2 linked regions of the Homo sapiens genome follow. Each later gene encodes a partner of the first gene's protein in a complex. Each region holds a gene or a part of one and is shown on either strand. Other genes may lie near its edges.

Region 1 (7,883 bases):
AAAGGCATGAGGTGGCCTTGGGGCATTCTGTGGGGCTCCATGTTGGTCTCTGAGCTCTTACAAAGGCCAGCTTGACCCCCAACCCTAGGAGGCACTCTTGGCTGGGTTCTCCTTCCCACCTGGCTCCAGGCTGAGGCCGTCCATTGCCAGTGTCCAGGGCTGCTGGCTGAGCAGGACACTGCTGCACTGGGCCTGGCACGCACCTCCTCTGTGCAGAGATCGAGTTGCTCTGGAGAGGTGTGACATATGATGGTGAAACTTGGCAAGAGTGGCTTCAGTGACAGAAAAATACATGCCAGGTCCCTAAGCCCAACTCTGCCGAAGGCCTTCTTCCAGCCAGAACCCTAGTGCCTAGTGGTGCAAAGACCTTCTCTCCACTCCACACCTTGCAGGAGCTGCAGGGCCAAGAACTGCACCTGGGTTCTCAATTTGTTTTGCAAATGAGCCCTAAGGCTCACGTATATGGTTTGCCTTGTCACTTTTGGACGTTTCCATCATCCTCAACAGATAGTGATGGGTTATGCAAAAAAAAAAAAAAAAAAAAAAAAAAAAAAAAGGCGTGCGTGAGAGGAAGTGCTCTGTACTCTTCCAACTTCTGCAAGCCCGAATCTACAGTGTCGCCATGTTTCCTTCCTGCCTTCTCCAAGGAGTTCCTTGATGGCAGCAGGGAGCCAGCATCCTGCATTAGGGTGGCCTGGTCTTGCAGCTGCTTGGAGGGTGTTGGCTACGGCACTGATGTGCATTATTGTATTCAAAACTGACAGACGCAGTCACATCCTTAGCCGAGATGGAAGGCTGAGTTTACCAGTACAAGGAGAACCAAGCTCGATGCTAAATGAGGCTTTGAAGCAACAGGAACAGGTCCTTGCCCCTCAGGAGGGGAAGGGGAGCCCCCCCCAGAAACACAAGGTGATTTGGAAGAACTCAATTTACACCCTTGGCTCCCGTGGGCTGGGGGATCAGCAGAGGGCAGGATAATCCCAGCTTCTCGAGCAGATGGTTTCTGACTACCGCTTGACCCAGTTCCCTCCCAGCAGATGACTGGCAGCGGGGCTGACAGCTCCTCCACTAGGGGAGCAAAGTGTGGACCCTCCTCCCAACCTCCTCTTCCCTCCTCCCACCAGCAAGGACACGGCGGCTTTTGCCCCTCCCTGGTGCCAGGTCAATGGGCAGGATGCTGCATCTTCTTGAAGGCTTGAAGGCAGGGAAACCTCACCCATATTCTCTCCCTTTCCACAGCCCTGTCCAGCCCAGGTGGGGCTGACAATGAGAAGGGCTGGCCAGGAACACTCCTGTGAGGGCTTGTGTTGGGGAGTGGGGGTTGTGAACTCCTTCATTGGCTTTATGGCTTCTCTCATTTCTTCATTCAATCATTACTTCAATAAGTTCTCCCTGATCATCTGCCAGGTCTGGCACCAGATAGGGCCCAGGAAGTCTGCTTCCCATGCAGGAGACAGACAAGGGAGGAGATAACAGCCAGGCACTGGGCTGAGAGCCTCACTCAGGTAAAAAACTATACAGGGCACAACCGGGTCAGGGAAGGCTTCGCCAAGGAGGAGAGACTGGGCTGACTCTGAGAGCCTGAGAATGAGTTTGTCAAGTAGCTGGTGGCTGTGGTGACGGAGACAGCCGGGTGGGCAGATGCAAGCAAAACCAGGAGGTGGCCAGCCTGGCTCAAGGCCACCATGCAGGAGGTGCTTCCCAGGAGGCAGAAGCTCCCGGGCCACAGGCTCCCAGGCAGGGCAAGGGCAACCTGATGGGAGAGCAGAGACTCTGGCCCTGGTGGAGATTCTAAGGAGGCAGAAGGGCTGCCATCTCGGGGATCCTCCTGGATCCCTGCTTCTGACTTCGGTCGGCAAACTCACACCCGCCCTAGTTTTGCCCGCCAGCTTCGGGTCGGTTCCTCCGATTGGGAGGGAGGGGGCGCTCGGCTTCCAGACTTGCAGGCCGCCGCGGGCCTGCGGTCCCGGCCGAGCTCCACGGTGGCAGGGCTGGCCCGAGAGACTGGCGGTGGGAGGCGGGGGCAGGAGGCCACGCTCCGCCTCCGACGTCCCCGATTCCCCAATATCCTGGGAAAGCCAGGATGAACTCCCATCGTGCTTCTGCCTTGAGTCTAGCCCGTTGCGAGGGAACGGGGTACGGCTCCGTGTCCTGTGGGCATTGTCATGCGGCCCCAGACCCGGGTGGGGGCGTGAAGAAGGACAGAGGAGCGCATTGCACTTGGGGCCCCGGACGGGTCTGAAAGTCAAGTTTCCACTGACAGTGTTCCTTGTCCGGTGGCCTGAGAACGGTGACCCTAGAACCATCCTTTATCGGGTTGTGTGAAGAGCCTGGCCCAGTTGCCTCGCTGGGCCTCCCACCCAGCCCCTGTGATACAGGTGTTACTGTCCCTTCACAGAAGAAGAGGTAGGCGATAGGAAAGGTGAGGACTCTATCCAAGGTCACTCCTGCAAAGCTGGCAGTGGCTGAGCCCGAGTGGAACCCGGGTCTGAGTGAAGCCAAAGTTTGTCTGCTGGCGAAAGTGGGAATTCCCTGGGGGTGGGGGTGGGGGTGGGGTACTGTAGACCCTGCCAGCCCCTCAAGCCCTGAGGCTCAGTGGCCTCCGGGCCGCGCGCCTGGGATCCCGCACAATCGGGGCGTTCCTCCTGGCCCAGCAGACGCAGCCGCTGGCCAGGCCTCCAGTGGCTACTGCCTTCCCGCCCTCCAGCTCGCAGGGTCCACGCCTCGGCCAGTGCGACGGCGGCCCGGGGAGCTGGGTGAGGGCACTGCAGCCCCAGAGCGGCAGCCGCCGGCGGAGCCTGCCTCTGGCATCCCAGGCCGCGCCGCACCCCGCTCGCCTCGCCAGGCTCGGCCGCGAGGGAGCGCCCCGGGAGGGCCGGGGGCGGCCACGGCGGCGGGAGTCGCCTCTGCTGGTTGGGGAGGGCGGCAGCTGGGACAGAGGCAGGGCCTGCGCGGCGGCGGGGAGGCGGGAGTGGGCCGGGAGGAGCGCCTGGGTCCAGCGCCTGGAACCCGTCGGTGCCGCCGGCCGCCCAGCTGGGCAAGGGTCCGGGGCGCCCACGTGGTGGGAAAGTTTCGAGGTAGCAAAAGTAGCCCGGCATTGCGGGGGGTGGGAGGGGAGAGGAGGGGAGGGGAGAGGGCCGGCTCGCCCCTCCTTCTCGGGAAGGCAGAAAGGAAAAAAGCGGTGGGAAGCAGGGGTGAGCGCGGGGAGCGGGCAGCCCCAACCTGAACAGATTCCGCTTTCTCCTCCTCCCCCCACCCCGGGAAGCTCGAGCGGGGAGGTACGGACCGTCTCCTCTCGCACGGGCAGGACGACACCCTCCCTCCCCCCCTTTTTTCTGCCAACGTCTATCTCAACGCGCGCGCACATACGGAGATTGTGCGGCTTTTTTCCCCCTTGGGAGAAAAAACGGGGAGAGTAAAAGAAGAGAGACCAAAGAGAAGAACTCCTCCTCGGCGAGCTCCGCACTCCGTGCCGCGGCCCGGCGCGGGGACGCCGCCGCCGCCCGCCCGCTCTCTCCCGGCCCTGCGGCGGGTGCCAGTACGAGCGCGAGCGAGGGCACTGCACCCGGGGACGCTGCGAGACTTTTCGGCGCTCGAGCCGACCTCGCCGCCGCCGCGGCAGGCAGAAGAGACAGGAGCGAGAAGGGCCCTGCCTCCCCCTCGCCTTCCTCGCCCGGCGCCCCGCGCCCGGCCGGGCCGCGCAGGCAGGCGGAGGGAAGGAGGGAGGCTGCGAGGAGGCGGGCGGAGCAGAGGCCCCGGCGAAGCGCGCTGCGGCCGCCCGCCCGTGGATGCGGCGCCCAGGGATCCTGGAGACAACTTTGCCGTGTGACGCGCCGGGAGGACTGCAGGGCCCGCGGCCGAGGGCTCGGCGCCGCCTGTGAGCGGGCCCGCGCGGCCGGCTCTCCCGGGCACCAAGCTTGCTCCGCGCCACTGCCCGCCGGCCCGCGGCGAGGACGACCTGCCCGTCTCCGCCGCCGGCGGCCCTTCCTGGCGCGAGGCAGTGAGGGCGAGGCGCTCAGGTGCGAGCGCGGGGCCCCGCCGCAGCGCCCGCCGCAGCGCCGCGCCAAGCCGCGCCCGGCTCCGCTCCGGGGGGCTCCAGCGCCTTCGCTTCCGTCTCAGCCAAGTTGCGTGGACCCGCTCTTTCGCCACCTTCCCCAGCCGCCGGCCGAACCGCCGCTCCCACTGACGCTGCTTTCGCTTCACCCGAACCGGGGCTGCGGGGCCCCCGACGCGGAAAGGATGGGGAGAAGGCTGCAGATGCCGAGGCGCCCCGAGACGCCCGTGCGGCAGTGACCCGCGACCTCCGCCCCGCCCGGCGCGCCCCTCGGGCCCCCGGGGCCCTCGGCGCCCCTTCCCTGCCGCGCGGGAACCCCCGAGGCCCGGCCGGCCCCCTCCCCCTGCGAGCCGGCGGCAGCCCTCCCGGCGGGCGGGCGGGCGGAGGCCCGGGCGGGCGCGGGCGCGGGCGGGGGCGGGGCGGGGCGGCGCGCCCGGAGCCCGGAGCCCGGCCCTGCGCTCGGCTCGACTCGGCTCGCCTCGCGGCGGGCGCCCTCGTCGCCAGCGGCGCACCATGGACGGGCTGCCCGGTCGGGCGCTGGGGGCCGCCTGCCTTCTGCTGCTGGCGGCCGGCTGGCTGGGGCCTGAGGCCTGGGGCTCACCCACGCCCCCGCCGACGCCTGCCGCGCCGCCGCCACCCCCGCCACCCGGATCCCCGGGTGGCTCGCAGGACACCTGTACGTCGTGCGGCGGCTTCCGGCGGCCAGAGGAGCTCGGCCGAGTGGACGGCGACTTCCTGGAGGCGGTGAAGCGGCACATCTTGAGCCGCCTGCAGATGCGGGGCCGGCCCAACATCACGCACGCCGTGCCTAAGGCCGCCATGGTCACGGCCCTGCGCAAGCTGCACGCGGGCAAGGTGCGCGAGGACGGCCGCGTGGAGATCCCGCACCTCGACGGCCACGCCAGCCCGGGCGCCGACGGCCAGGAGCGCGTTTCCGAAATCATCAGCTTCGCCGAGACAGGTGGGTCCGGCCCTCCGGCTGTCTGCCGCGGTCCCCGCTCGCTCCCGCTCTCCCTCTCCTTGCTAGCTCCGGCTGCCACCGCCGCCACCGCAGCCCGCGCGCCCTGGGGCAGCCTGGACTCCCGGCAGAGCTCCTTCGGCCGTGGCCCTGCGCGCTCCGCCCGGGTTGCAGTCCTCTTCCCCCAGGCCGCAGACCCTTGCCTGCTGCCTCAACCCCCCGCCGCCGATCGCCTGGCCCTCCACCCCTGCTCTCCGGAATCGGGCCCCAGCGCCTCTGGGCGCGCGTCCCCCTCCCGGCAGATGCGCGCGGCCCTGGCTCTGCGGGCACTTGCTTGGTGATTGCTTAATGTTTTTGTTTCCCACGATCGGAGTGTAGGCTTAGCAGTGTGGATGGAGATGTGTGTGCTTGTTGATATACGTGGGCCGGAGGAGAGAGAGAGTGTGTGTGTATCTGTGTGTGTGTCTGTGTGTGTGTGTGCCTGCGTGAGAGGCCCCTGGGGCCGCTTCCATCACCGGCGGCGTGGGCTTGCCAGGATTGCTGAAGCCTCGCTGGGGAGAGCTAGGCAACCTCTCTTCCGATTGTGTGGGCACCGGAATCGGGCGGAAGGCAGGCTTCTCAACAGGTCCATCATTTACACAGAGAAAGCCGCGGTTCGGGGACAGCCCCGTGCCTCTCGGCTTGCCTGGCAGCTGCAGCAGACCCCTCGCCCGAGAGGCAGAGTCGTAGTTAACAAAGGGTATGGCTCCTTTCTGGAATCCGCCCCCCCCCCCGGCCCCAGATTGCAAATCTCTAACACTGTCTAAATATAAAAATCAGGGAGAGAAAAATCTTTCGGAACTTTAAAAGAAGGAGAAAAATGTGCCCGCGCCAAAATGCTGCAAGTGCTTTCGACTCCGCTGTCCTTTTCAGGACTTGAATGAGCCAGGCTGGCTTTTGTGCCTGGAGCTCGGCCCCATTTGTGCCGAGGGGACTGCGGAGAAGGTCGCAGAGGGGGAAGCCCCGGTGCAGTTAGGGCGGGGGCAAGCGGGGAGCCTCGGTGGGGGGAGCGGTTGTGCCCCTGGCTGCAAATGCCCCCCACCCCACCAGGCAGCAGGCAGCCCGGGGATGAAAAGGGATGAAAAGTTTTGCATGGCCGGGTGTGGAGAAAAGCAGAGACAATCGGGGCTGGTTTGTGCTTAGAAAGAAATGCATTGCCGTTTTAGCTGTCCACTAAAGTGAGTCAGGGAAAGCTCGCCATGCAATTAGAGGGCTCGGATTAAAAGGTGCTTTGGGGCCCAGAGTTAGAAATGTGATTCTGGAAGGTCGAGGAGGCCTTTTGGTCCCGGTGGCACAAAATGACAGCGGGGGCTGTTATATTTCTGGTCCGTTTCACGGAGCCAGCTCTTTGACTTATAAATAACAGATTCAGGTCACAGGCAGCTCGTCCAAGACCAGCTTTTAAGGCTGCAGTTTCCCCCATTTCAAAGTCAGATGTCAGTGTTATTAGAGGAGCCAGGCGAGGCCTGAGGTAGGGGCTTGGGAGGGGCATGGTGGGAGGTTTGATAAAACCAGCCCTGACCACAGAGTTTCATTATTTGTTCTTCCTGAAAAAAAAAAAAAAAAAAAAAAGGAAAGAAAAACGTAGATTGTCAGAGGCAAGGGTCACCGGAATGTAGGATGAGAGGGGAGTCATCTCTTGATTGGCACAGCCTCCTTCTTGTTGAGCTGAATTATTGAGAAAATTAACTAGCCAGCTCCCCTACTCCTTGGGGATTTTGAACGTGCCATTAACAGGGAGCCAGAGTCTTGTCAAAGGATTGGACCTCAAGTTTTAAGGCTGAATGTCCTGTCCCTTGAAACTATTCTATAAGGGCTAGGCTCTGCAGCCTGCAAAGCACACGTTCCTATGTCAGAAACCTGAGCAGAGCCTGCTTGTTTGCAGTGGAGGTTCCACTGGGGGTTGGATCACATCATACTTAGGTAAACACTGGAAAGAGGCGGTAGGTGGCTCAGCTTGATTTTGCAATGCGCTAAGTTAACCAAAAAAAAAAAAAAAAAAAAAAGCCCTACTAAAACCACCCACCCCAAAATCCTCCCTGCGATCCTGGTTTTGTTTTTCAGATTTCACAGATACCCATAACAACTTGTTAAGATCTTGGCCCCCTGACAAGTTCTTCTGTTGTGCTTTGAGGCCTGACAGCCTGTCTCCAGGGAGCCCTGGCCTGGGAGAGGTGAGGCAGGATTTTATAGGCGCGGACCCTCCAGCCCCAGCCTGGTCCGGGTTTCTCAATGAGAAACGATTTTCTCTGCCTCTCCCAGGTTACAGTCAGAGGCCCTGGCCCCAAGAATGGTATTTCTGGTCAGTAACGTTTTCCAGCTGTGTGGCGAGTTGCATTCCAGCATCCTGCAGCAGAGAGTGTGTTTCCCCCATTGCCTTGTGTTCTCCTTGAATTAACTTGGCTCGCCCTTCCCCTTTTCCGCAGATGGCCTCGCCTCCTCCCGGGTCCGCCTATACTTCTTCATCTCCAACGAAGGCAACCAGAACCTGTTTGTGGTCCAGGCCAGCCTGTGGCTTTACCTGAAACTCCTGCCCTACGTCCTGGAGAAGGGCAGCCGGCGGAAGGTGCGGGTCAAAGTGTACTTCCAGGAGCAGGGCCACGGTGACAGGTGGAACATGGTGGAGAAGAGGGTGGACCTCAAGCGCAGCGGCTGGCATACCTTCCCACTCACGGAGGCCATCCAGGCCTTGTTTGAGCGGGGCGAGCGGCGACTCAACCTAGACGTGCAGTGTGACAGCTGCCAGGAGCTGGCCGTGGTGCCGGTGTTCGTGGACCCAGGCGAAGAGTCGCACCGGCCCTTTGTGGTGGTGCAGGCTCGGCTGGGCGACAG
Region 2 (7,168 bases), about 82 Mb from region 1:
ATTTGTGAAGCTGGATTTCAGACCTGTAACAGTAATGATAATAGCTAGTATTTATTAAGTGCCTGCCATGCACCATCAGCTATTCAAATAACTTTACATATATTTTTTCATTTCGTCTTCATGACAATTCTATGTTGTAGGTTATTATCATTCCCCTTTTCCATAGAGGGAGAGTAAAGTACAGAGAATTTGAATAACTCACCACACAGTCAGTAAATTATGGAGCCAGGATTATAGTGTGCGCCCTCACATACCACATTAATGGTAACAGCAGCACTAGCAGCAACAACTTCTCATCTTATTGGATATATGAGATGGAGTAATTAGCCTTCACCAGATCAACCTTTGTAAAGAAGCAGGGACACTTACAAGGTGTTAGTGCAGCAGTGGTTATGCAAATGTCGTAGTTCTGAACATGTAAAACTTTGCTTGGCCTAATATTGAAGTGGCTAGTGCAGCTTCATTAAGTGCAAGCTGATTAGAGAGGGCCTGTGTGGATTTGGGTTACACAGATGCAGTGATGTTAACTCGACAGGCGCAAATGGTGCAGCTGAACAGGAAAATAAATCCTAGAAGACTGATTGATAGCACATCCTTTTTCGGGGTCATGGATAAATCATTTCTTTTGATTCCCTCTTTCTCACTTATTGAGTTCTTGGACTCCTTAATTCTTAGAACATTTTCTTTCTTTCTTTCTTTCTTTCTTTCTTTTTTGTTCAGACAGAGTATCACTCTGTCGCCCAGGCTGGAGTGCAGTGGCACGACCCTGGCTCACCACAACTTCCGCCTCCCAGGCGCAAGTGGTTCTCCTGCCTCAGCCTCCAGACTAGCTGAGATTACGGGAGCCCACCACCATGCCCAGCTAATTTATTTTTATTTTTTGTATTTTTAGTGGAGACGGGGTTTCACCATTTTGGCAGGGTGGTTTCGAACTCCTGACCTCGTGATCCACCTGCCTCGGCCTCCCAAAGTGCTGGGATTACAGGCATGAGCCACCACACCCCGCCTAATTCTTAGAACATTTTCTATGCCCCCCCCAAAAAAAAAAACAACTTATGAAAAATAAGATGTGCTGGCTTGGTTTATGAATGAATTCTTAATAAAAGAATACAACACAGCTATTATTTAAAGGTCAACTTCTGTAATGCGTTTTAAATAATTCACTTGATTAGATTGCAATTTTACATACATCTCTTGAGGAACACACACATTATATAAAGTAAGATTAATCTAATGTTAGTGAATATTACTGAGTAACTGAAGTTTAGTAATCTTCATTTTAGTTTTTCTCAAAGTGTGGGTACTGCAACAGAATTACCTGGGGTTCTTGATAAAAATGCATATTTTTGGCCCTATAGTCCAGATGTACTGAATGAATCTCTCTGGGAGAACCCCCGCAAAGTCTCACTCAAGCAGGTGCTTGAGAAGCACTGCTTTATATCATCAGTCCTGATTGTTTGGATTTCTTTCTTTTTTTTTTTTTTTTTGAGTTTTGCTCTTGTTGCCCAGGCTGGAGTGCAATGGTGTGATCTCGGCTCACTGCAACCTCCACCTCCCGGGTTCAAGCAATTCTGCCTCAGCCTCTCGGGTAGCTGGGATTACAGGCATGTGCCACCACTCCTGGCTAATTTTGTATTGTTAGTAGAGACAGGGTTTCTCCATGTTGGTCAGGCTGGTCTTGAACTCCTGATCTCAGGTGATCTGCCCGCCTCGGCCTCCCAAAATGCTGGGATTATAGGTGTGGGCCACTGTGCCTGGCCCTGGCCCTGGCCCTGGCCCTGGCCCTGGCCCTGGATTTCTTTCTTTCTTTTTTTTTTTTTTTTTTTTTTTTTTTGAGACAGAGTCTGGCTCGGTCACCCAGACTGGAGTGCAGTGGCGCCATCTCAGCTCACTGCAACCTCTGCCTCCCGGGTTCAAGTGATTCTTCTGCCTCAGCCTCCCAAGTAGCTGGGACTACAGGTGTGCACCACCACACCCGGCTAATTTTTGTATTTTTAGTAGAGACGTGGTTTTACCATATTGGCCAGGCTGATCTCAAACTCCTGACCTCGTGATCTGCCTGCCTCTGCCTCCGAAAGTGCTGGGATTATAGGCATGAGCCACCACGCCTGGGCTGGATTTCTTAAATATGGTGATTCAGTGACATTTTGCTGTGTAATTATTGGCAACCACAAAATCTTAGTGGCATGCAACAATAGGCATTTATTCTGCTCCATGTGTCTCTTTCTGGGGTCCAGGCTAGAGGGAGAAGTAACATCTATCTGGGGGAGGCTTGTGTCATGGCATTGGCAGAAGTGCAAGAGGCCAAGCCCAACCCTACCAGCACATTTCCAGACTCTGCTCTCCTAACATCCCATTGGCTGACCGAGTCATATGGCTAGGCTAAGCTCAGAAACAAGAGGTATCAAAGTACACTTTGCCTGTGATGAGGCTAATGTAATATTTGGATATATAGTACTATTGCAGAAGAACGAAGAATTGAAATTCTCAGTAGACCACATATAACCAGTAAGATGGTCCAGAAGGGAGGCTTTTCTTACCCTTTGAAGAGGGCCAACCTCTTAATTAGTTTTTTGCATTAAAATGATATAAACTTTGGTCTCTACAAAAGCTATTCTGGCATGTGGGATGATGTGATAGTAGTGGTATTGATGTGGATGAGTAGTGAGGTGAGAGATAACTGTTCACACAAGACAAAACCTTTCCTTCATTAAAGGCCAGTTTTTTTTTTAACAAAAAGAGAAGAAATTGAATATTGATCTCTAATGGGTAAATTCTAACCATTAAAAAAATACTGAGTGGAATCTGTGTGAATCAGTTAATTTTATAATTGGCCACACCACTTATTTTGGCACCTACTCATAGATTGCTGTGCTGCTGGATATCAGTTTTTGTTTTTGTTTTTTTTTTTTTTTTTTTGAGATGGAGTCTTGCTCTGTCACACAGCCTGGAGTGGAGTGGCACGATCTCGACTCATTACAACCTCCACCTCCCAGGTTCAAGCCATTCTCCTGCCTCAGCCTCCCGAGTAGCTGGGATTATAGGTGTGCACCATCATGCCTGGTTAATTTTTGTATTTTTAGTAGAGATGGGGTTTCACTATGCTAGCCAGGCCGGTCTCGAACTCCTGATCTTGTGATCCACCTGCCCTGGCCTCCCAAAGTGCTGGGATTACAGGTGTGAGCCACCACACCCGAAATTTTTTTATTTTTAGTAGAGATGGGGTTTCACCATGTTGGCCAGGCTGGTCTCAAACTCCTTACCTCAGCTGATCCACCCACCTTGGCCTCCCAAAGTGTTGGGATTACAGGTGTGAGCTACCGCACCTGACCAGGTATCAGTTTTATGTATTTGCCTTGTCCTTCCTACTGATAATTGCTTCCAGAGGACAGTATTCATGTCTGATTAGTTTTATAATTTAGTAGACATTTAAGAAATACTTAGTGAATGAATAATAAATAGGAATTTCAACCAGGAATATTCTAGGGTTGTTTATTGACTCAAATAACACACCAATAACTTTTTCTTTGTCCTAGTTCCTTCAACTATAAAGTATGTAGTTTAAGAGGTATAGTGGGAAGACCACTGTTGGGAGTTAATGAGACCTAGATTCTATATGATTCCGGGCAAATAGGTTACTTAACATAGTTTTCTTACTTGTAATAATATGGGGTTGTACTTGATCATTTTGAAATACAGATTCATGGGTACCCCACTAGACCTACTGAATCCAAATCTCTGGACAACGAGCCTGGGAATCTGCCTTTGATGCCCTCATCAGCCAGTAAATTTTAGGTACCTTTGAGAACTACTGGATCTAAGATTCTTTCTAACTCTCAAGTTCTATAACTTTATTTCTACTTTTTGTGGTAATTACTACTTAATCTATATCTTTTATTGCTTAATCTGGTAAACATTAGGAACAAACATTTCTTAATTTGTGCATTAAGCAATTACCCAAAATCTTTTCCTTTTAAAAATTTGCAGTGTGGCCTGGGCGAAGTGGCTTACTCTGTAATCCTGGCACTTGGGGAGGCCAAGGCAGGCGGATCACTTGAGGTCAGGATTTCGAGACCAGCCCTGCTGTACAAAAAATACAAAAATTTGGCTGGGAGCTGTGGCTCACACCTATAATCCCAGCACTTTGGGAAGCCAAGGCGGGCTGATAACCTGAGGTCAGGAGTTTGAGACCAGCCTGACTAACGTGGTGAAACCCCGTCTCTACTAAAATACAAAATTAGGCCAGTTGCCATGGCTCACGCTTGTAATCCCAGCACTTTGGGAGGCCAAGGTGGGCTGATCACCTGAAGTCAGGAGTTCGAGACCAACCCGGCCAACGTGGTGAAACCCTGTCTCTACTAAAAATACAAAATTAGCCGGGTGTGGTGGCACATGCCTGTAATCCCAGCTACTCGGGAGGCTGAGGCATCGCTTGAACCTGGGAAGCGGAGGTTGTGGTGAGCCGAGGTTGTGCCTTTGCACTCCAGCCTGGGCAACAAGAGCGAAACTCTGTCAAAAAAAAAAAAAAAAGAAAAAAACAAAATTAGCCACGCGTGGTGGTGCATGCCTGTAATCCTAGCTACTCAGGAAGCTGAGGTAGGAGAATCACTTGAACCTGGGAGGCGGAGGTTGCAGTGAGCCGAGATCGTACCACTGCACTCCAGCCTGGGTGACAGGGCGAGACTCCATCTCAAAAAAAAAAAAATTACTATTTTCAAAAGCACTAATATTGGCTGGGCCTGGTGGCTCATACCTGTAATCCTAGCACTTTGGGAGGCCGAGGCTGGTGGATCAACTGACGTTAGGAGTTTGAGACCAGCCTGGCCAACATGGTGAAACCCCATCTCTACTAAAAATACAAAAATTACCCGGGCGTGGTGGCGGGCGCCTATAATCCCAGCTACTTGGGAGGCTGAGGCAGGAGAATCACTTGAACCCAGTAGGCAGAGGTTGCAGTGAGCCAAGATTGTGCCACTTTACTCCAGCCTTGGCAAAAGAGTGAAACTCCATCTCAAAAAACAAAACAAAACAAAAAAACACTGATATGAAAGATTATATGCATGCCTAGAATCACAATGCCCAACACTGTACCTTAACCCTGCCTTGTGCATCAGTAACGTTTAAAATACATTACCCAAATTATCAAGATATAGTGCAAAATGTGTGCAATCATTCACGTCTTAAATGTGTCGACGGTGGACTTGGTGGAAAAATTATGAGACATGATAAAGTATTGTGCCAGAGGCATTGGCCTAAGAATTTTAGATGGAGTTAGGTATTTGGGACAGTTAGGTATTTGATCCACATCTCTTTCTGGAAGGTTAGATGCAAATGGAGGTTGAGAAATTTCAGTTTCTTTCTTTCTTTCTTTCTCTTTCTTTCTTTCTTTCTTTCTTTCTTTCTTTCTTTCTTTTTCTTTCTTTTCTTTCTTTTCTTTCTTTCTTTCTTTCTTTCGACGGAGTTTTGCTCTTGTTGCCCAGGCTGGAGTTCAATGGCAAGATCTCTGCTCACTGCAACCTTCACCTCCCGGGTACAAGTGATTCTTGTGCCTCAGCCTCCTGAGTAGCTGGGATTACAGGCATGCACTACCACACCCAGCTAATTTTGTATTTGTAGTAGAGACGGGGTTTCTCCATGCTGGTCAGGCTGGTCTCGAACTCCCGACCTCAGGTAATCTGCCTGCCTCAGCCTCCCAGAGTGCTGGGATTACAGACGTGAGCCACCGCACCTGGCCAAGAAATTTCAGTTTCTTAAAACCAGATCTCACTTCCCCTTTCTCCTTCAAGACAGTAGTTTGCCCTTATAATTGGTGTCAAAAATGTACATGATCATGTACTTTCATTCTGCCCCAGTAAGTTTAGTGCAAAATAGGAAAATTTAGAACAAAATGTGTTAATGATAAGTGTGAAGGGATGTATAAATATTTGGCCAGTAATCCAAATTCTTCAGTTTTTTGTTTCATTTAGATGAGGAAATAGTTAAGACTTTCTATTATTATTAATCTGTGTTCAGTCTTTGCTTTTGTAAATAAGAATAGTCTGTGAGCAAATCTATGTAATTGTAGTAGACACACCAGGCTAACCTTTTAGGGCAAGCTTTTTTTTTTGTTTTCATTTGAAAAATTAAGAGAAAAAATATTAATCTTCACACAACCCTAACACTTTTTGTTTTGGTATGTTTTCTTCTAATTAAAAAAAAGATGCTTTTTTTTTTTTTTTTTTTTTTGAGACGGAGTCTCGCTTTGTTGCCCAGGTGGGAGTACAGTGGCGTGATCTCGGCTCACGACAACCTCCACCTCCTGGGTTCAAGCGATTCTCCTGCCTCAGCCGCCCGAGTAGCTGGGACTACAGGTGTGCGCCACCATGTCCGGCTAGTTTTTGTATTTTTAGTAGACACGGAGTTTCACTGTGTTGGCCAGGCTGGTCTCGAACTCCTGACCTCGTGATCTGCCCGCCTCAGCCTCCCAAAGTGCTGGGATTACAGGCGTGAGCCACCACGCCTGGCAAAAAAAAAAAAAAAAGCATGTATTTTTATATGGTTGTGATTTTATAATATCTATTAATTATATCTGTTTTTTTTACATAGAATAATATAGTCATGTATATGTGATCTTAATAACTATCATTTTTTCATAATTGTGTGATATTCCATTGAGTGTATTTGTTATTTACTTAATTCATATTGGGAGATGTTTAGGTTGTTTCCGATTTTCTTCTCTAATAAACAATGCCATATTTAATACTTCTGTGCGTATGTCCTGCTTGTTGTTTGATTTATTTCCAAGTTCTTGTTTTGACCTATCTGTAGCATGAGCCAATTTAATCCTTTTTTTTCATCCTTCAAGTACTTTCTTCATTTGGCTTTTAAGATACTATTCTCTCTTGATTTTTCTCCTACCTCACCAGCAACTTTGATAGTTCCTCCTTATGTCCCTGATGGCTAAATGTTGTGTTTCAGGATTCAGTCTTTAGACCTTTTCTCTGTCTGCACCCACCCTCTTGGTGATCTCATCCAGTTTTATGGCTTTAAATAGCATCTAAAGGCGTACAAGTTTCAAATTTATTTCTATCTCAGACTTCTTTCCTTGAAATTCTGTTGCATGTAGCCAACTGTGTATCTGTCGTATCTACTTGGATGTCTGATATTCATCACAAACTTAACCTGTCCA

Evidence for each region. Proteins that work in one complex are often made in the same cells at the same time.
Region 2: the proteins of INHBB (region 1) and BMPR2 are in contact, whole or in part, in a crystal structure (PDB 7U5O), measured with the Homo sapiens proteins. Residues at the interface, in NP_002184.2 of Homo sapiens: Phe309, Asn318, Asp319, Ile322, Ala323, Pro324, Gly326, Tyr327, Tyr328, Thr379, Met380, Ser381, Met382, Leu383, Phe385, Asp386, Asn390, Ile391, Val392, Lys393, Asp395, Ile400; in NP_001195.2 of Homo sapiens: Tyr40, Tyr67, Leu69, Val80, Lys81, Trp85, Ser86, His87, Ile88, Gly89, Asp90, Gln92, Ile108, Gln109, Tyr113, Phe115.

Annotation. Positions count from the first base shown.
Region 1 is NC_000002.12:120,341,622-120,349,504, forward strand, and holds the start of INHBB (inhibin beta B chain preproprotein), read left to right. Parts: upstream 1-4,514; 5' UTR 4,515-4,567; coding exon 4,568-5,015; intron 5,016-7,477; coding exon 7,478-7,883. Other genes in the region: translation initiation factor IF-2-like, read left to right, coding at 2,301-2,406, 3,266-4,293. UniProt on the Homo sapiens protein: Inhibins and activins inhibit and activate, respectively, the secretion of follitropin by the pituitary gland.
Region 2 is NC_000002.12:202,379,159-202,386,326, forward strand, and holds part of BMPR2 (bone morphogenetic protein receptor type-2 precursor), read left to right. Parts: intron 1-7,168. UniProt on the Homo sapiens protein: On ligand binding, forms a receptor complex consisting of two type II and two type I transmembrane serine/threonine kinases.